Linked DNA regions of Homo sapiens. The protein of the gene in region 2 purifies or fractionates together with the protein of the main gene of each other region. This does not show direct contact. Each region holds a gene or a part of one and is shown on either strand. Other genes may lie near its edges.

Region 1 (3,653 bases), on a different chromosome or scaffold from region 2:
GGGTAAATACTGCATGATTCCACTTATATATCTAAATTAGTTATGTTCATAGAAACAGAAAGGAAAATAGTAGTTGCCAGGGGGTTGGTGGGGGGTGGGAAATGGGGAGTTGCTGCTCAATAAGCATAGAGTTTCAGTCATTCAAGATGAAAAATTTCTAGAGATCTGCTGTACAACATTGTGCTTATAGTTAACAATATTGTACTGTACACTTTAAAGTTTGTTAAGAACTAAATCTCCTGCTATGGTTTTTTACTGTGATAAAAAAAATACATGACATGCAGCTAAAGCAGTGCTGAGATGGAAATTCATTGCACTAAAGGCTTAACTTAGGGAAGAAGAAATGTCTGAAATTAATAATCTAATTTCCCACCCTAAGGAACTAGAAAAGTAAGAGCAAATTAAACTGAAAGCAAGCAGAAGTAAGGAGATAAAGAGCAGAAGTCAATGAAATTGAAAACTCAAAATCAACAGACAACATCAATGAAACAAAGAGGTAGTTCTCTGAAAAGCCTCATAAAATTCACAAACCTTAAGCAAAACTGACAAATAAAAAAGATAGGCCACAAATCATTAATATCAGGAATGAAACAGGAGATATTATTATAGACCTTGCAGACACCAAAAGGGATTACTACAAACAAATATGCATGTATAAAGTTGATAATTTTGATAAGCTGGATAAATTCCTTGAAAAGCACAAACCACCACAACTCAATAGAAATTAGATAATTTGAATAGCTTGGTAACTATTAAGAAAATTGAACATATAATTTTAAAACTCAAAAAAAAAAATTCTTCATTGAAACCATCTGGGCCTGAATGATTTCACTGCAGCATTCTACCAAATACTTAAAGAAGAATTAACACTCATATTACACAATGTCTTCTAGAAAATAGAAGAGGAGGGACTACTTCCCAACTCTTATTATAAGGCCAATATTGCACTGATACCAAAATCAGACAAAGACAGTACCAAAAAATTAAATTGCAAGCCAATATCATTCATGAATAGAAGCAAATATCCCCAGCAAATATGAGCAAATATAACATATAAATTATACATCGCATCCAAATGTGTTTTATCCAAGGATGCAAGGCTAGCTCAACATTTGAAAATAAATTAGTGTAATCCACTGCATTAGCAAACTGAAGAAGAAAAATCACAAGATCATATCAATTGATGCAAAAAGTATTTGGCAAAATTCAATAGTTATTCATGATAAAAACACTCAGACAACTAGAAATCAAGAGGGAACGATCTAAACTTCAAAAAAAACTACATTATAGTTGATGCTGAAAGACTGACCTCTTCTTCCCTAAGACTGGGAACAAGACAAGAATTTAGCTCTCACCACTGCTATTCAACATAAAACACAGAGTGGAAAGGAAGAAATATCACTGTCCCTCTCTGCAGATGACAAGATGGTCTACATAGAAAGTCCTAAAAAACAATGAAAACAAAAGAAAAAAAATTAGAAAAATACCTTTTAACCCCCTAGAACTAATCAGTGAATTCAGCAAGGTTTCAATATGCAAAACTATCATACAAAAATCATTTATATTTCTATATACTAGCAATGAATACATGGAAACCAAAATTCAAAATAAAATACCATTAATAGTCACTCCAAAAATGAAATGGTTATGTATAATTCTAACAAAACATACAAGATTTCTATGCTGAAAATTGAACAGTGCTGATAAAATAAATAAAAGAAGATCTAAATAAAGGGAGAGACATATGGTGCTCATGGATTGGAAGACTCAGCATAGTAAAGATGTCAGTTTTCCCCAAACTGATACACAGGTCTAATACAATTCCTATCAATATCTCAGCTAACTTTTTTCAGATATAGGCAAGTTTATTCTAAAATTTATAGGGAAAGTTAAAGGAACAGGCAATATTGAAAACAATAAACTAGGAGGAATCACTCTATCAAATTTTAAGATTTATTATAGAGCTACAGTATTCAACACTGTGTGGTATGGCAGAGGGACACATACGTAGATCAATGAATCAGATTAGAAAACTCAGAAATAGATATACACAAGTACGGCATACTTATATTTTACAACAGTGCAAAAGCAATTCAATGGAGCTGAAGTAACTAGATATCAATAATCCAAAAAAATTAACCTTGACCTAAACTTCACATTTTATGCCAAATATTAACTTAAAATGGATCATGGACTTGAATGTAAAATGTAAAACTATAACATTTTCAGAAGAAAATCTAGGAGAAAATATTTGAGACCTACGACTTGGTGAAGACTTCTTAGATGTAACAACAAAAGCACAATCTATAATAGGGAAAAAAATCAATAAGTTGAATGTCATCAAAATTAAAAGCTCTTTCTCTGTGGAAAATCCTATTAAGATGAAAAGACAAGCCACAGACTGGAAGAGAATATTTGCAAGCTACATATCTGACAAAGAACTGGTATCTAGAATACATAAAGCACTCTGAAAACTCAACAGTAAAACAAACAATACAATACAATTAGAAAATGGGCCAAAGATATAAAGAGATATTTAAATGAAGAAGATATGGGGATGACAAATAAACACATGAAAAGATGTTGAACTTTATTAGCCATCAGATAAATGCAAATTAAATCAGTAATATATCACTACACACTTATCACAATGGCTAAAACTTAAAAAAAAAATAGTGAGAATACCAAATGCTGGAAAGGATGTGGAGATACTGGATCTCTCATACCATTGCTGGTGAGAATACAAAATGGTACAGTCACTTTGGAAAACTAGTTTGTCAGATTCTTTTAAAATTAAACATATATTTACCGTCCCACCTTGTAATTGCTCTCCTGGGCATTTATCTCAGAGAGATGAAAATTTCCATCTACACAAAACACTGTACTCAATGTTAATAAGAGTTCTCTTCGTAATAGCCAAAAACTGGACATTTAAAAATGTCCCTTAATAGATGAATGGTTAAAAAAACTGTGGTACCTCCATGTCGTGTAATATTTCTCAGCAATAAGAGGGAATGAACTATTGATACCAATTTGAATGAGTCTCAAATGTATTATGCTGAGTGAAAAATAGTGGAAAAGGTCACATACTTTATGATTCTAAAAATTAAATCATTTTAATTATATATAAAATTCTTAAAATGACAGTTATAGAAAAGGAGAACAAATTAGTATTTTTCAGGGGTTATCAATGGTGGGGGTAGGTGGTGGGTGTGACTATAAAGAGGTAGCACAGGAGAGATGGAATATTTCTTGATTGCGATAATGGTTAAACAAATCTACACATCATAAAATAACATAGAATTATACACACGTATCATTCCAGTATCAATTTCCTGGTTTTGATATTGTATTATAATTATGTAAAATGCAATGATTGAAGTAACTCAGATGAAGATTATATGGGGCCTTTCTGTACTATCTTTGCAAATTATTGCGAGTCTCTTATTCATAATAAAACCCTTTTAAAAAAAGAAACCACTTATAAAGCAAACAACTTAAAACAAGAGTGTGGAAGCTAAAACTCAGGGAGTAAATATAAAGTGCTTTATTATAACAGCCTGTAACAGTTTGCCAGTTTTGTGAAGGAATCGCTTTTAAATGGGGAAGGTTTGTATAGCCCAGTGACATATAACACCAAGGACATTTAACAT
Region 2 (3,753 bases):
AGCTCACATTTAAGTGGGGATGACAGATCTGTAAGCAAAGACAGTTCACTGTGGTGAGGTGGTGTGGCTAAAAGCATGGTTAAAAGGGTTAAAAGTGAGGGCTCTGTGCTCAATACAGGCTCAGCCCCAGCCCCACCACTTAGGCAGTGTCTGAGCTTTGGTTTCTACATTTATAAATGGGAATAAAAATGGGAATAAAGATACGATTTCTTCAATTAGATCATGAGGACTTACTACGGTAAGCGAAGTTAAGCGTTTAGTACACTGCCAGCTGTAGAGCAATAGAGCAAGTGCTTCGTCAGACCTAGCTACTATAGTAAGTGTGGTCATCCCTTATGAGATCTATGGGAGCACAGAGGAAGGAGTCTGTCACTCCTGCTTAGACGATGTGTGGCTCCTCAGGAGCTGAGTCTTAAAGGAGGGTAGGAGTGGTTGAGGGCATTCCCTTCACAGTGAGCAGAGGGAACACAGGGTGTCCAGGATAGTCATGGGCATGGTTGTCATATGAGAAATGACAGTGTACGGGGCAGCAGAGGTGACCAGGGGCCCCATTATCACGGGCCTCATAAACCATGCCAGGTGTCTGACCTTCTAGAAATATCAGAAAACTGACGGAGCTTAAAGAGGAAAAGGATGTAAATCTGCATTTCTTTTTTGTTGTTGCAGTTGAAAGATAAGCCATTTATTGACCATCCACTTTTCAAATAAAACACAAATGTGAGCATAACATAAACACACCCAAGACTCACTAGCCCCTGCAAGACAGGAAGCATTCTTGGACAGAGAGTCTGCAAATGAGTTTCCTTATACCTAATGTCTGAACTTCTCACTCATTCTAGGGTTTCATGCTTTGTTATCTCTTACAAAGGAAAGGAAACTGGCTAGAAGATTCATGTACAAGAAGGTCACAACTTCAAAGCTATCTGACACTAATGTTGTGTACAATCTAGTTTGCAACTCTGAGAGACAATATCAAATAAGTACTGTCAAATATTCCTCCCAGTTAACCTTTACTGTCATTGTTCTTTGAAATTGTCTTTGGGATTGGTTATGTTCTCTCGCTGTAGCTTTCGTTTATCTCAGAGCACAAACCCTAAAATCCATGTGCAGTCTCCATGTTCAAGTATAGATGTCTGTTTCAGGACAATCCTGGGTCGCGGTAGTGTTTCCCTCTCTGTAGTGTGTGTTTGGTGTCATGCCCTTGGAAAGGCTGGCCAAATGGCAGCGCAATGCAGGAGGGTGCCACGGTCAACTTTCTCTCTGGCGAACTTGCTTCCCTTTCAATCTGGTCACTGCTCATGGTCGAGGTGGAAATCTTGAGCTCAGTGATGAACTTGGCTTATCTTCAATCTGAAACTGCACTCTTATGTAACCGAATCCATTTCTTCACCAAAAATTAAATAGCGCTTTCAAAAGCTGTCAGGCATATTCTTAGGAAGTGTCCTGAGACGGAGCTGGAGGGTCCTGGCCTTCTGGCTCTGGAGGGAGTGCTGGCACAGCTGCTTCTTTCTGGGCCACCAGGAATTCATGAATTATTTGTTCTATTTGTGGCCTGAAGATGTGGTTTAGTTTTGGATCCACCACCTGAGAACTAATCCTGTCCACTCCAGCTTCTGACCTCCCTGACTGAACCACACTCTGCCTCAGACCATCGTGCAGTTGGTTGTCGTTTGCTGGAGGATTCCATTCCTGCTTGTCCAGATGTGTCGACACAAAATTATCCGCTTTCTGGCTCAGGTTTTGGTAAGCTGGCTTGGTGTCCACGTCAGCCTTGCAGTCCCGGCGGAAGCTGTCAAAAAGGCCCCTGCTCTTGAGCTGCCCCACGATGATAGCGATGAGCTGAGGGTCGCCAGGGGGCAACGAGGCCGGGTTGATGGGGCCGCCGCCCCCGCTGGCCCGGGTCGAGGCCGGGCCCGCACCGCCGCTGCCGCCGCCGCCACCGTCCGCCATGGCTGCGCACCGGGCCCACAAGGAAACCGATTATAGCTTCTTCTCCAGGACAGAAAGCCTAGAATGTGTAGAGGTGGCTAAGGGGGCGGTGAAGGAGGAGGGCCCCAAGGAGGCAGCGGCGGAGGTGACGGTGGTGGTGATGGCGGCGGGGCCGGTGGTTGGGGCGGCGGTGGGGGAGGCCAGCTCCAGACCGCGGAGGTTGTGGAAGACGCGGCAGCAACCGCCTGCTGGATTCCAAGCGCGCTCCAGATGGCGTCACCGTTGACCTTTGCATTGTGAGGCGGGAACCGTAATCTGCATTTCTTAAAAGATCTCTAAGAGGGAGGTGGGAAACAAATGCCAGTGGGCAAGGGCGAAACAGGGAGACAATTTCAGCAACCATTTCAGTGCCCTAAGAAGGAGATGGCGAGGAGTGAATGATCTTCGTGGCCTGGCAGGTGAAGAAGGTAACAGGGATACAAGAGATATTTAGGAGATAGACTCATCCCAGGGATTGGAGAACAACGGGGTGAGGGACGAGGGAAAGGAGAGGGTCAAGGATGACCCCCAGGCTTCTCACTTGGGCAGGTGCATGGAGGTGCCATTTACTAAATGGAGAACAGGTATAGAGGTGAGGATGGGAGACAGAGACATGATCGTGCATTCCATTTTTATTTACTAGTTTAAGATGGGTATGGGTTATTCAGATGCAGACATCTGCCTATGAAGTCCAAAGATACAAGGACTAGGGGCTGGGGAGAGACATCTAACTCACTGAAGGTAGAGACTATAGGTGGCAATTACAATGGAGAACTTAGAAGAGATAGAGGAACACCTGGAGAGCCCATGAGGGGGACTGAGAACAACACTAAAAAGATGGAGGGAAAACTACAAAAGCCTTGGATCATAGACCGCAAAAGGTACATTTCATGAAGGCCATGGGTGAAATGCCACACTATGTTCCACAAGGTGTCCATTGGCTTTGGTAGCCATTGATGAGCCTAGGGCAGATGTGTCAGTCAGAAGGAGGTCATTTCAACAAGAGAACTGTATTGCAACCAAGAGCCACAAAAGGCAACCACATCCAGCGCCATCCAATAGAGAAGTGCAGGTGCACAGAAAGAACCTTCTATCAATATTTCAAAAGAAAAGCAGATCCCTGATTTCACCCCAACACTCACTTCCCTGAATTAAAATGCCCCTGAGATGTAGACACCACATTGTTCTATAAGCCGTAACATAGCTTAAAGGTAGTATATTTCACAAAGAAAGTTTACACAACAGACTCTGTCAATAACCTCACCCCATAGCTTCTGACATACAAGTACAGATGCCTCAGATGGACGTATTCTGAATCTCATCCCACAGGAGACAGTGAACCTACCAAGACTTCACCACAGCAACCCCCTACCTATGCTCCTCACCATCCCCATGATCAGCTCGACAATTCAGTTCTGTATTTTTTTAAATTAATCAATATTTATTGAGGGACTAGTCGATGTGGCCCTGTGCTAAGCTTTATGGAGCTCTCCACGTGCCTGGCCCAGTCTAACACTCAATAAATGTTTGCTGTGGCTGTTGTTTAAGACAGGCAACATGGCCAGCCTTTGAAAAGCTTACAATCTAGTTGGAGAGGGGAGATGTTGACAGAGAAAACCATTGAGGACATACACAAGCTCCATGGGAACTTAGATGCAACATGCACACCTAGCATGGTGCCTGGAACAAAAGAGAGGCACCATTAATATTTGCAGAATAAAGATTGCATAGATGAAAGGAGGGTGTCCCTGTCATGTGTTGGAGAACACTGAAGCCTGGGAGAAC
Region 3 (3,653 bases), on a different chromosome or scaffold from region 2:
TTTTGCCTTTTTGATGGTAGACATTCTACCAGGTTTGAGGTGATATTTCACTGTGGTTTTAATTTGCATTTCCCTGATGATTAGCGATGTCGAGCATTTTTCACATACCTATTGGCCACATGTATGTCTTCTTTTGAAAAATGTCCACTCAGGCCCTTTGTCTATATTTTGATCAGAACATTTGTTTTCTTTTCTTACTGTTGAGTTGTTTGAGTTCCTTATCTACTTTGGACATGAATCTCTTATCGTATGTATGTTGTGCAGGTATCTTCCTCCACTCCATAGGTCATCTCTTCACTCTGCTGTTTCCTTTGCTATGCAACAGCCTTGGGTTGGATGTAATCCTGTGTGTCTCTTGCTTTTGTTGCCTGTCCTTAGGGTCACATCGAAAAAGCCATTGCCCAGAGCAACGTTAGGGAGCTTTTCCCCTGTTTCCTTCCAGGAGGTTTATAGAAAAAGTCATTGCCCAGAGCGACGTTGGGGAGCTTTCCCCCTGTTTCCTTCCAGGAGGTTTATAGAAAAAGTCATTGCCCAGAGCAACGTTGGGGAGCTTTCCCCCTGTTTCCTTCCAGGAGGTTTATAGAAAAAGTCATTGCCCAGAGCGACGTTGGGGAGCTTTTCCCCTGTTTCCTTCCAGGAGGTTTATAGAAAAAGTCATTGCCCAGAGCGACGTTGGGGAGCTTTTCCCCTGTTTCCTTCCAGGAGGTTTATAGAAAAAGTCATTGCCCAAAGCGACGTTGGGGAGCTTTTCCCCTGTTTCCTTCCAGGAGGTTTATAGAAAAAGCCATTGCCCAGAGCGACGTTGGGGAGCTTTTCCCCTGTTTCCTTCCGGGAGGTTTATAGAAAAAGTCATTGCCCAGAGCGACGTTGGGGAGCTTTTCCCCTGTCTCCTTCCGGGAGGTTTATGGAAAAAGTCATTGCCCAGAGCGACGTTGGGGAGCTTTTCCCCTGTCTCCTTCCAGGAGGTTTATAGAAAAAGTCATTGCCCAGAGCGACGTTAGGGAGCTTTTCCCCTGTCTTCTTCCAGGAGGTTTATAGAAAAAGCCATTGCGCAGAGCGACGTTAGGGAGCTTTTCCCCTGTCTTCTTCCAGGAGGTTTATAGAAAAAGCCATTGCCCAGAGCGACGTTAGGGAGCTTTTCCCCTGTTTCCTTCCAGGAGGTTTATAGAAAAAGCCATTGCCCAGAGCGACGTTAGGGAGCTTTTCCCCTGTCTTCTTCCAGGAGGTTTATAGAAGAAGCCATTGCCCAGAGCGACGTTAGGGAGCTTTTCCCCTGTCTTCTTCCAGTAGGTTTATAGAAAAAGTCATTACCCAGAGCAACGTTGGGGAGCTTTTCCCCTGTTTCCTTCCAGGAGGTTTATAGAAAAAGTCATTGCCCAGAGCAACGTTAGGGAGCTTTTCCCCTGTTTCCTTCCAGGAGGTTTATAGAAAAAGTCATTGCCCAGAGCGACGTTAGGGAGCTTTTCCCCTGTTTCCTTCCAGGAGGTTCATAGAAAAAGCCATTGCCCAGAGCGACGTTGGGGAGCTTTTCCCCTGTTTCCTTCCAGGAGGTTTATAGAAAAAGTCTGCCCAGAGCGACGTTGGGGAGCTTTTCCCCTGTTTCCTTCCAGGAGGTTTATAGTCTCAGGCCTTACGCTTAAGTCTCTCTAGAATTCTTAAATTTGTGAACATCCCAAGAAGTGGAAGTAGGAAAAATGTTGAGCTATCAGTATATATGATATGGGTAAAGTGAAGTCTGTCTAGTTTACAGGAGGTTAATAAAATAATTTGAAAACTTATTTTGGCTGAAATTTTGTGCATTCTCTTTTGAGAAATAACTTTCTGTGAATCTGCTTTAAAGTAGAAAAGATGTTAATTTGCATTTCATCTCTTTTTATCTCCGCCCTATTCAATTTCTAGTTGAGATGCAAGTGAACAGTAAAATAACCAAATTTTAGTAAGAACAAGAGGCAGGACCAGAAATGATCTACAGGCTGCATAGTTAAGCTTGGAGTATTCAGAAGTGGACTATTTGTGTTTTGTGGTTTAAGACAAGAATTATTGGCTCTTTTCTGGATATAGCTGTGAGTTATTTATGAAATTATAGAAATTTTTTTGTTGAATGATAGAATTCAAAAGAATATAAAAAGAAAAATCACCAATAATCCTATAAACTGAAGATAGAAACTTTTTATACTTTTATTGTATTTTGTTTCAAACATCTCTCTTGGCATAAATACATATGTTTATGTATGTATGTGTTTGTGTGTGATTAAAACTGGATTATATGACATACTTTTTGAGGTTTTATTGTATTTTAACCTCAGCATCCAACAGAGGAAGTTTTTGAAGTTTTAAAGAAATGCCTCAGGTTCTCTGTGAAGAATCCATTATATGCTTTTTCAAAAACTGTTTTTCCCCCCAGGATTTTAAAGATATTTAGGTCGGGAAAAGCATACAAAATTAAACAACTGGAAAATGAGCTACAAACTACTGAGGTGGATGATTAATTCTGAGCACTCTGATAAGAGGGAGCAATTGTTACATAAAAGCAAGGTTTTGTAGGTAGGCAGTTGTAGTGACACAGAAAACAGCTTCTGGAGATAACATTTTAACTAGGAAAAGCTATCAGGCTTATTCATATCAACAGACAAAGCATCCTGTTAGCCCATATGGATATGGGCATAGGGAAGCTGGGAAAAATCTGCCTTTCTTTGCCGGAAATTCAGTGTTTCTGAACATAGAAAAAGAAGAAATACAGAAAGCGTCATTCAAAGAAAGGAAGCATTCACGTTCTTTTAAATAGCAAGGCTTTTCATGCCAAAATTGTGTAAGGGATTAAATGTTAGCCTGTATTCTTGTCTTGTCTTGGTTATCCATGACTTGGGAAAGCCATGCCAGTTGGTCCATGCCGCCATACCCTCATTCACCTAAGAAGAATTGGAAGTAACACTTTATGACTTATAAGGTGATTTTGCATCCCACGTAATACTTGTGCTAAATATACAAATTATTGATAGAATGCCTGGAGGAAGAGAATCTTTTGTATGGTTAACCTCACATACAGTGCATACAGTGGTAATAGATGCCACACCCCCAGATCGTTGGATTAGAGAATACACATTGATAACTGTAAAACACATTGGGAATGCTGGGTTCCTGAGGGACAAGATTGTGTTTATATTTCATTTCATGTCAGGTGTGGAATATTTTGGGGCCTGAGGCCTTGGCTGTACAGTGGAAACAAATGATGCTTCAGAGAGTCTGTAGTACAGAAAGCAGCATTTTATATTGTTTTATTTAGTGTTTTAGCAAACTAGACACCAGTATCATTGCCATGCTCTTTTTGTTATGAATCCTACTGTGTTAGCAATTGCATGGTTGGTTAGATTAATGTATAATAATGAGTCAGTGTTGGAAATGATGAGATTTGTCTCTTGTCTCTTTCTCTACAAAATTCTAATTTGTAGTAAGTAGCTCAGAACGCTCAGATTTGAATTACTCTGTTTATGCAAGAAGTCATTTATTAAATAAAGATGATGTTAGTAATTTTTAAATCAGTGGTTTGAGTCAGCTTTTTGGTTTGTAGACCAAAAAAGATTTAGTTACTTTGATGAAATGTACTCAACTACTCTCCAATTTTAAGTCAACTGCTTAAATTGTCCAGACATGTT

The links.
Region 1: the proteins of BOD1L2 (region 2) and ATG4A purify together in Homo sapiens (affinity purification with mass spectrometry; one large-scale study listed by BioGRID and IntAct). This does not show direct contact.
Region 3: the proteins of BOD1L2 (region 2) and DCP1B purify together in Homo sapiens (affinity purification with mass spectrometry; one large-scale study listed by BioGRID and IntAct). This does not show direct contact.

The regions. Positions count from the first base shown.
Region 1 is NC_000023.11:108,098,185-108,101,837, reverse strand, and holds part of ATG4A (cysteine protease ATG4A), read right to left. Parts: intron 1-3,653. UniProt on the Homo sapiens protein: Cysteine protease that plays a key role in autophagy by mediating both proteolytic activation and delipidation of ATG8 family proteins.
Region 2 is NC_000018.10:57,145,510-57,149,262, reverse strand, and holds the start of BOD1L2 (biorientation of chromosomes in cell division protein 1-like 2), read right to left. Parts: upstream 2,177-3,753; 5' UTR 1,951-2,176; coding exon 1,432-1,950; 3' UTR 1-1,431. UniProt on the Homo sapiens protein: May play a role in proper chromosome biorientation through the detection or correction of syntelic attachments in mitotic spindles.
Region 3 is NC_000012.12:1,955,930-1,959,582, reverse strand, and holds part of DCP1B (mRNA-decapping enzyme 1B), read left to right. Parts: intron 1-3,653. UniProt on the Homo sapiens protein: May play a role in the degradation of mRNAs, both in normal mRNA turnover and in nonsense-mediated mRNA decay. May remove the 7-methyl guanine cap structure from mRNA molecules, yielding a 5'-phosphorylated mRNA fragment and 7m-GDP.